Regions from separate parts of the Homo sapiens genome. Here region 2 is linked to region 1. The links come from fine-mapping of genetic effects on gene expression. A gene starts in region 1. The other region holds a variant in brackets. All regions are shown on one strand. Distances are from middle to middle.

Evidence for each region. PIP is the estimated chance that this variant, and not a neighbour inherited with it, causes the effect.
Region 2: its variant is the best candidate, but not a certain one, in a credible set for the expression of C8orf88 in whole blood (INTERVAL, PIP 0.57).

Annotation. Positions count from the first base shown.
Region 1 is chr8:90,982,579-90,987,966 of GRCh38, forward strand. It overlaps C8orf88 (chromosome 8 open reading frame 88), which reads right to left and starts at 2,660. Exons shown (of 6, transcript NM_001190972.2): 1 at 2,536-2,660. RefSeq lists a silencer at 2,684-2,843.
Region 2 is chr8:90,820,541-90,825,928 of GRCh38, forward strand. NECAB1 (N-terminal EF-hand calcium binding protein 1) reads left to right here. Exons shown (of 13, transcript NM_022351.5): 3 at 4,177-4,285. All of the region lies in intron 1 of LOC105375635 (a long non-coding RNA gene), which reads right to left. Among named protein-coding and RNA genes, the nearest start is that of NECAB1, 31 kb to the left of the region's middle. The variant AT/A (reference allele first, on the strand shown) is at 2,326.

The sequences.
Region 1 (5,388 bases):
GGGGATTACAGAACTCCATTATATGACTTTGCAACACAAGTAAATAAACAAAAAATCAAAGCTCTTTTGGTGCCACCTACCCTTCAATTTACAGTAGGAAAGATACAGCAATGGCTCCCTGTATATAAATCCACATCAGTTAAGGAAATTAGAAAAGATGGTGTCATTCAGTACTCTGTTTAATATTTTTTTTTAAAGTAAACGATGCCTGCAGGGAAACACTGACATTATAGGGGACAAGTTTGGGATTACAATGCATAGTACATTCCACCATCATGTTATTAATGAAAAAGGTTAAGTATTTATAAAAAGTAATTATTATTGTAAAACTGAGTCACGAGATTATAATTAAGGCAGAACTCCATAAACCAAAACCTAATTCTCAGTTTAGTTAAAAATAATAAAGACTTAACTGCACTACAAAGTCATTATACAAAACAAATTCAGTCTTAAACTCTAATGCCTGCTTCATCCATGGAATGTAGAGATCAAAAAGTTTCCCTTGAAGCTACTGGTGCTACCTAGAGTAGCCATGTATCATATCAACGATTCAAAGCACAGTTACAAAATAAACAGAATTCTGCCTACAACATTGGGTAGCAAGTAGTGGGCCTATCATAAGGTTGTAAAATGTAAATTTAAAAATGTAAATGTATAGTTTTGTGGTATAAATGTTTTTTAAAGGATATTTTGATCCAATGTCTCCAAAAAAACTTTCTATTAATACATACTGAGAAATGGTTGCTGAATAGTTTTTTTCAAGATCACACACACTTAACAAATCATCTTTAAAGACCAAGTTGTATGAATAGAATATTGGTAAATCAGTTAGTTATTTACAGTTGCTATTCTACACCTGGCAATACTAACTATATCTTAGGTTCCTTTTCTTTTTAAAAAATTTACCTAAGTATGAATCTTCAGGCCTTATCAGTCCTGATATTACCAGTAAACCTAGAATTGTCTAAAATACAATGGGATAATAAGCAGATACATTGACCACTTTGGCCAAAATCTTATTAATCTTATTTTTTAATTAAGATGCCTTTTTAAGGTCCTACTACATACTAAATATAATTTCATTTAATTTTGAGCCATATATGAACGGTGGAAGAAAATTATTATTAGTCCCACTTCACAGATAAGAAACCTGAGGCTCAGAAAAATAAGAGACATGCCCAAGTCCACATAGCTACTAAGTGCTAGATATTAGGATTTGACTACAAAGTTCACACCTTTATATCAAAACTTGCCTATTTGTTACATAAAAGAAAGATATCTGACTGTCCATTTATTACATGTGGACACTGCGTGTATAGATTTAAAAATTAATGTGAAAAGTAACATTTATTTATAAGGCCATGCAGAATAAATTGGTATATGCTAATAATATCCATTTCTTCAATTTACCATTTTTCTTAGAATACTAAATAAATTAGGGAGTACTGTGCTTTCCTCACGCTACAGACATGGTATACTGCCATACTAACCATAGATCACAGCATATGAAATATACTATGCACTGTTTTTAGAAGCTGAGTACTATACTTAAACTCCAATATAAATTCTAGTCTTCTTTGGAAAGTACTGATGCTACCGCTGCCGTTGAGAAATAAGATCATATAAAGTGAAATAATGAAATGAAAAGACCATATTTGAATTTACCTTGTGTATAATTCCCATATGATAACCAGATAAAATTTCATCTCAATTTCCAACTTCAAAACATTACAAAGTTAGGATTCCTTGAAACCCAATACTGCTTGTAAGTAAACTGCTCACACTGACAAAATGATAGATGAAGAGAAACATACAGGAAACATCGGGGAGTAAGAAATAAACCACCTATGACTCAAGTGGTGAAAGACATTTCACGTTCCATATATCTGGTTGCACTATTAAGGAAAAATTAAAACGAAAATATCAAAAAACTAGAAGCTTGGAGAGTTCCAACATATCTTCCATTTCATGCCTTCTCTTTATAACTAATTTAATTTTTTTTTTGGTCTATTTGAGGGATTTCTCAAAACAAAACACAATTTAACATTCGGATGGGCTAAAGCTGTCCAGGTAATAGGTGTCTGTGATTACTTTAGTCATGTAACTGTCCTTTCCGTAGCTTTGACTAAAACACCAGCAATGAAAACCTTGTGCCACCGGGTGGAGGGGGCAAATCGTCTTGAAAGCCTCCCACCGCCTGGCACCAGGTGCTGGGGCAGAGCCAAGGGGAGCTGTGTACTTAGCTCCTTTTTTGGCGATGGCTTTGGTCTCGGCCACTTGCCCCTCCGTCGGGCTCCCCTGGCCCCCTACACTTTCTTTCCCCTCATCCGACGCTCTCGCTCCCATCCCACTCCCATTCAGGGTCCACAGGGTACTGAAGGGGCCCTGAGAGATTTCCCGACCCACCTCAGAGCTTCTCTTCCTCGCCTCAACTTTCCCGGGGTCGGGCCTGGGAGACGGCGCCCACCCGCCTCCTCCACACCACGGGGCCCGACTTCCGTCCCCCAGTGTCGCTCATCCTCCCTAGCCACTTACCGACTCAAAATCCACGGGGATTTCGGGGCAGCAGCGTCGCCGCGCTCAGCCCACACGCGGAGGCCGAGCGCCCTGCTGCCCGTCGGGGAACGGCTCCTGCCGCTGGTCCGCTGGCTGACCGCGGTGGCGGCGGCGGGGGGCGAGGGGCGGGGGGCGAGGGGCGGGGGGCGGGGCGGGAGGCGGCTCCGAGGGGCACGAGGCGGGCCCAGGGCGGGCGCGGGGCGTGGCCTCGGGCGCTGAGCCTCGAGAGCAGCCGCACCCCTGCCGGGGTAGAACCGTTAAAAGGGTGGCGCGCGCTTTCCCGGGCGAGCTGGGCGCGTGGGGTTGGAGCGGCGCCACCCAGAGCCGGTCGTCTAGGGTAGGAGGCCGCGAGTGAGGCGCTGACAGGCTAGCCCTCGACGGGGCGCGCCCGCGTGAACGGCCTTGGGGGCCCCAGACCGTGGCCCTGCTTGTGCGAAGACTGGGAGGCGCCAGGCGGGCCGCCTGCTGGGGGCTTGGCGGCGGGTTCCAGGCAGCGTCTGTGAGGGAGGCCGCCTCTGTGAGGGAGGCCGCCGTCGTGCTGACGACTGAGTCCACCCTACTCCTGTCCCCCGTCAGAGCTGCTGGCAGGCGCTGCTTTCCCCTTGGTGCATTTAGTGGGTGTCGGGATTCGGGTTGGCAGGGAGGAAGATGTTTGAGACCTGGTTTACCTCAGACCAGGGATACAGCGTTTCACACAGACTGCCATCCTGAAAGGAACAAAATGAATTAAGGCAACTCCATCCGAATCATTTCTTTTTAATCTTCACCTTCAATCCTTTTGCTAATTTTTCATTATCTTTGAGTGTCCCCAGAGGGGGACTGTCTGCTTGTACTGAGGGACGTGGAGGTGGCAGTCCCTCACGTCCCCAAGCACCAAAAGGACAGTTGAAAATGCACTGGCAAACACTGAACGGTTTTAAGTGGGGCACTATCAGGATTTACCATTTTGGAAGGTATGAAGTTTCACAAGCACTTCCATGTATAGTCAAGTTATTGGAGCTGTCTCCGTTTAGAAATGGCTTCCAGAAACACTCCTACTATCCACTGAGACAACTCGCCTGGCATCAGAGACCTAGGGTCCAGGGTCAGAGATGGGTCATGATAAAAGGGCATCCCTTGGGGTGAGGCACCAGAAGTCTGCACAGTGGAATCAATATATTCCAACCACCAGATGTAGAAAATCTTAAGTGCAGGATGTGGTTCTCATCCATCTAGTCACAACAGAAGTTTTCTTCTTCAGGAATATACTTAACAATGAAGCATGTATAATTTTATATACATCTTACAATAAAATTATTTTGTGCATATCACTGTATGAAGTCAGTAGAAACTATTGTGACAAAAATGTAAATTGGAAGAATTCCAATTCAGATCAGTATTAGTAATTTATTGAGAGGAAGAGAGAAATTAGACTAGACAGACTCCTTGATTTTTTGATAATTGAGGAAGAAAAATGAACCATATAAACATATCGAAACTTTTCAAAATCTTATTGATAATGACATAAAATTTTGGCATCTACAAGGATAATCTAGAATTCATACCTTTACAACAAGAACTTGACAACAAACAGGTTAATGACTTTTAGCAACTTAAAGGTTAGTCACTGCCTGAGAAAACTTGAAGTGCCCTGAAATCACAGAGTTCACCTAAGAACCTTAAGATGAGTTTCCCCAAATTTAGCAATACTAAAAATTGGCATTATTACCAATAACAAATTGTGAAACTGCAATAACTTTTTTAAGCTTTCAATAACAAAAAATACATGTTGACTAACTTTGCTTTGAAAAGACTACCACATTATTCATTATCACCAGGGAAAGTGCATTACAAAATTACTGTCAAATGATGAGGCAATAAAAAAATGAAAACTAAAAATATAGGAAAAACATAGCAATGGTTCAGGTAGTTAATTTAAAATATCATTTTACTGAATTTCTAAAATATTTGTGGTATTTATCATCTTTTTAAAAATCTGTAATTTGTTGTCACTGATTTTCTTATTCTAAGTAAATATTTACTTTGGTCACCGCCCCCCATCCCTGCTTCCTGCCCTGCTCTGGCCACTCAAAGAATTGGAGAATGGATTGAGAAAAAGCAACAGTGGAAATAGATATCCCAGTTAGAAGGATAATAATTTATAATGTGTCTTACTACTTATAAGTAGAGGTTTTATTTAAACTTATATTTTCATATTTTATTTAACTCCACTTTCACAGTACCTAGAACTACACACACACACATACAAACTGGTTACTTGATCTCATGGTATGTGCTGTTTAGTGAGGGTGCAGATATGCAAACAGACAATTTCAACTCAGTAAATTAATTGTTAAATCTGGGTGGTGCCACTGAAAGCCTGGCAACTCAGAAAGCTGAAGAGGTAGCATTATCTCATGTTTACCAAATGATTTCCTTGCCAACCTCCTGCCAATAGTCGCCTTTTATTCATTTATTCCTCAAACATTTACGAAGCATTTTATGAAGGATACACTAACAAACACACAACACAGATGCTCATAATTATTATAGGAATGTGTTAAAACAGTGGTCCCCAACATTGTTAGCACCAGGGGCTGGTTTCGTGGATGACTGGAAGGGCGGGGTATGGTTTTGGGATGAAACTGTTTCACCTCAGATCATCAGGCATTAGATTCTTATAAGGAGCACACGACCTAGATCCCTCGCATGTGCAGTTTACAATAGGGTTCACACTCCTATGGGCCACTGTTGATCTGACAGGCAGCAGAGCTCAGGCAGTAATGCCAGCAATGGGGAGGGGCTGTAAATGCAGATGAAGCTTCAGTCACTCACCTGCCACTCACCTCCTGC
Region 2 (5,388 bases), 160 kb before region 1:
AGCATAATCATTTTAAATGCTCACAAAAACAGGATTAAAATTGCTGTGGGGGAGGGGCAATACTCAGATCAGAGCTCTAGTTGTTGTCATGTTTGTGGATGCAGCTTGAAGGAGACATTAAATTACTGTTTAAATAGTCTTTTTTTTTTTTTTTAAGAAGCACTAGTTTTAAGATTTACAAACCTGATTACCTAAAAAAAAAGTCTGTCATTAAACATACCTTAAATACCCATTTTCTGTGTGTACTCAATAAATATTTTTCAAGGAATAGTAGAAAATGGAAATTAAAAACACATAAATGATCTTCACTTAGCAAGAGTGAACTAGTAAATCCATATCTACCATTGTTGAACTCTTACTATGTGCTAGGTGCTGTGTTAATTGTTTTCTATATAGCCTTTCTCTTAATCCTCTCAATAGCCAGGCATTTACGAAATCTGAAACTTAAAGGAATTAGTTGGTACTTCCAACATTCTTTCTGGACCCTTTTCTTCCTTGTTGTAGGCATTCTCCCTGGGAGAACTCACTCACTTCTAAGTCAATTACTTGGTATTGGTAACTCCCAAGCATACACCTCAAGCCCCCATCGCCCATTGACTTTTCTAGACCCCTGTGATTCTACTACTGTGCACTAGATGCCTCTACTTACTCCACAGGTACCCCCAATCTCAACATATCCAGAAGAACACTCTTGGCTCACTCCATGCTTTTGCTCAGTGTTCTTTCTAGCAATGAATGGTGATACCATCCATCTGTTGCTCAGTTTGGAAAGCAAGTCTTATCCACACTAAGGTTTCCAAAATATGACTGTGGCTCCTGAGCACTCTTGGGGTAAATTAAAATCTCTTTATCACAATTTTGATGGTTTCTCATATTTCCTCTTCATATCTAACTCTGACTCTTCCTTCTATCCTCCAAATATATACCCTTTGGCTAAGTATAGTGATTTTTCTTTTCAGTTTCCAACCCAAGTCTTTTCTTGCCTCCTAGCCTTGTCATTTGCATTCCCTCTGCCTGGAGTACTCTTTCTCTTTAAAGATCTTCCTTCACTAACCCCTATTTTTCATCTGTGTCTCATCACAAGTGCCACTTCTTCTGGGAAACCTTCCCTATCCCTTTATAGCTAGACTTTTTTTTTTCTTTTTTCAAAATGCTCTCACATCGCCCTGTGTCTCGTAGAATCCCCCTTATTATATCGTACCATTTACTGTGTCATAATTATAAGATCCATAAAAGCTTGTCTACCTATGTTCTTAATACAAAACACAGTTTTTTGGCACATACTAGGACCTTGATAAACATTTGATGAAAGAGTGGATAAAGTGCCCTACTAGCAAATGGCAAAACGTGTTAAAAACTAAAGATTTTTTTATCCCAAGACTGTGGTCTAAGCAACTGCACTCTGCTGCCTCCATCTCAAAAAATTATTGGAATTTGGAACATAAGGCCAGGATAATTTTTAAGTAAAGCAGAGGAGGGCCAACTATTTTCAGGATAAACTTGGACAAAGCATGTAATTCCAGTTGAAAAAGCTGAAAAACCTGTACCCTTTGGTGGTAAAAGTTCAAATTTATTACCATAGGAAATCAGACCTCACAAGATTTGGCTATTCTGTGAGCCAAACCAGTATAAATCAAAGGTTAACTCTGTTGTTCCATTTCAAAAGAAAATATCAACAGGAAAGTTGAAGTTTGAATAAAATGTTTCTAATACAAATTTATAATTGCTTTATAAATACAGAATCATACTACAAGGGAATATTTTTCCCTTTCCTTTAAAAAATGTAATACTTTTGTTTAACATTAAGGCTCTAGTCTACAACTCTTCAAAAGTAACTCTTTGCAATTGCTTATTTAAAAGTGTGGCCACCTAAAGTGAAGTCTTTCAGGAATACTGCATGTGGTCACAACAGGTTTTCAAAGCATACTTTCCACCCTTCAAGCCAAGACTATAAGCTAATGCTTCCTTTTTCTTTTTATATATTTTTTTCTAATAAGAGGATTTTTTTCTAAATAAAAGTCTTTTAGCCCCAGAGAATCATCAGAGCCCTTATTAATCGATGCTTTTATTTGATAGAATGCACATTATTATTTGAAATCACTTACTTATCATAATTATAAAGCAGTATTACAGGGGCCCACCCTATCCACAGGGTGCACAGGCAACCCAAGTGCAGTAATAGCCTGTTTCCACTCACCTGAGAAATATTAACCATTCACCAAGGAAAACATATTCCATCATCAATGTATTCGTATTACATTCACTACATATCATAGTGTTGGAGATGGAAATAGCAGGTCGATTTCTGTTTTTTCTTTTTTCTTT[AT/A]TTTTTTTTTTAAACAGTACATGAAAAGGTCTTTCTTTTTCGCTCTTTAACCTCAGTCTGATTTGTGTCCAGTTTTTCAACCTGGCAATACATTTTTCATCAAAGCAAGGAGATACACAGTAGAAATACCACACTATGTCTTGTCTAGCATATCCATCAGGTTACATGGGGCTAAGTTTAAAATAGTCATATGAGGCATAAAACTACCTCATTCAAAAACAGAAACACAAAATTAGGAAATTGATGAGCCTGGGGATTGAACTTCATTTTGCAATGGGTTGTTATGTCACCTGAATCGCTAAGCTGGCTTGGCCCAGGAGGACCCAGAAGATCGGGTCCCTAGATCTGTGCTTGATTCAGATCTGGATTTATTCTACCTCTAAGGCTGTGTCTGCCCAGTTAAACGTTAGCAAAAATTAACTGGAAAATTAGATTATTGTGCCTTTTGTGTTAAAAAGCAAAATGAAATACAATTTAAAACCTTCCAGGACTATTTATACTTATATTTTTTGCAAATAAGGATTTTTTAAAATGTTGTAGTCTGTAAGTCCTTATCTGAAAAAAATAAGTAATTCTATGATTAGGCTTATTTTATCCTTTATAATAAAAATTCAAATTTCTTGTCTACCCACCCCTCCATGCCCTCTGTGAGATTCTAATTCGCTTGTGGGGCCTAGGAATCTGCATTTCAGCAGTGCTCCAGGCAATGTGTGGGCCATATTTTGGGGAAACAAAATGTTCTAGATGAATCTAGAGGAGCTCTTTCTATTAAATCAAACATTCTTCTACTCAAAGACAAATTCCACTTTGTTCAGTATAGAGTTGTTGGTAGAAGTACATTATAGGAGTTTCGTGACCCTGGACAAATTCCATCCTCCTTAAACCTCAGTTTTCTCATTGTAGATGGAAGGGATCTTACTATCTTTTACAGTTATTTGGCAGCTTATCTGAGATAACTGAAAAACTAGCTCCCTGCACAGAGAGAAAGATGCTTCCCTCTCTTTTCTCATCCATTCGTTTCTCTAGGTTTGCTGCTGCTGCATTTTGTACAAATCTTTTGCCTGTTATTAATGTGTTTCTTCCATCTCTGCTGATCTAGATTTTACCTGTTGTCCAAAGTCAGGGGTGAATGCTACTAAAACCCCTCAGGCCCTCAAATGGAAAGAATCTTTTGTTACCCAAAACTCCCATACAGTTAAAATACCTCTGTCTCTTATTGCATTAACCGTATTTTACTGTATAAAATACTTATAATGTCTGTATATATTATCTCTTTTATGATCTCTTTTATTATATGTTATCTCTCTGATTGGGTTTCACCTTTGTGCCCTACAGTAAGTAAAATGTCTTTGGCTTTAAAGGTACTCACTGATTTAAAGGGCATAGGAATGGACATAGTTTGTTAGACTATAATAACAACTCTGATATACATTTATTAAACACATCATATTTATCCTGCAATCTGCTAGGTCCTATATGTGTTTGGTACCATGAAGGTAAAACATCTAAATAATTGACTCTGTGTTGAGCTCTTTATTTGGTTATGTGGACATCTTTCTTGTATGGCCTGTTAAATGGTTCATTAAATGTTAAATGTTTGTCATGTGAATAAATGAACCAAAAAATACCTAGAACCTTGTAGACTTATATTTTATTAGAGTGTACACATCTGTGTTCTATGTTATATAAAGATATATTAAATTATTTTTCTTTTTAACACCTTCAGCTGTTCTTTCTTTTTGAGTACACGTGTGTACATGAACAAGCGTTTGGGTGAAGTTTTATAAAGCAAAAACAGAACAATGTACAAAATTAAAATAATTTGTGTCTCTTTGTTCTTGCCATTTCAGATGATGGAAAATTATCCTTTGAAGAATTCAAAGCATATTTTGCAGATGGTGTTCTCAGTGGAGAAGAATTACACGAGCTTTTCCATACCATTGATACACATAATACTAAGTAAGAAACTTTTTTATCACTGGATTCCACAAGTGAGGCACAGAGAGCGTGAATGCATTCATGTCCAGGAAGAAGAAAGGGAAGAACAATATAGAGGGTATATTTTGCCAAGTTTGCCTATGCTTAATTCTGAGATACCTCTTTAGTAATTAAAATTGCTCTGAAAAATTGACTTTGAATCAGAAAATAATGATCTTTTGTAGAAAGCTCCCCTGAAGTGTTTTTAGATTGTTCCCACTTTGCAGAATGTAAAACAAAGTATAAATTATAAATAAATATAGTTCTGCCATTAATTTAAAAAGTAGAATTTTACCTTGTTATTTAGGCTTAATCTCAATTTGCTTTGTTTAAAAATTATTCTTAGGCCATTCTTACATTAACACAGTGAAAAGGAAGAATTGTAGCAGTTATCTGGACAATTCAGGTGTGCTGAATTCCAAATCACTGTTACCTGAGGACATAATTATCTCTGGAGAGCCAATGTATATGGTGATCCATTCTTTTACTTATTTTGCCTATATAGATCTCTCTTTTGTATTAGCATAACATTTCTGAAGTTTCTATTTATATTCTCACTATGCTTAAAAATATAAAATAATGAGGACTTTAGGGTATAGAGCAATAGAAATATGCTGCTTGTTTTGGGCAATTGAACCAAATCAGATTATTTGTGACAGTCACAGTTACAAAACGCTTATATGAAAAACCACCATTTCAACCATGTCTTCAGACCTATCAGTGTGTCCATTGCTTGAAAAATCATTATATTTCCTTAGGCAAAGTGTTGAGATGGCTCCAGGCAGTGAGCCAAGATGCCAAGAAAATGCTCTTGGGCTACATCTATAAACAGACATTTTTTTGAAGCTAACTATTAAGAAAAATTAAAAGATTAAATTCACTTTACTCAAGCTGTTGAATATTTTTTAAACAACCAATTTAGAAGTTTCTTGACTTCATTGGGGTTTCAAATTCTTCATCAAACAGCTTAAGTATTTTGTTGACAGAAACAGTATTCATGGGTAACTATACTCAACAATAACTCTAGCATATCAAGTCCATAGTAGGTATTGGTGGTACAACATGGAACCAGCTTATGGTTTTAT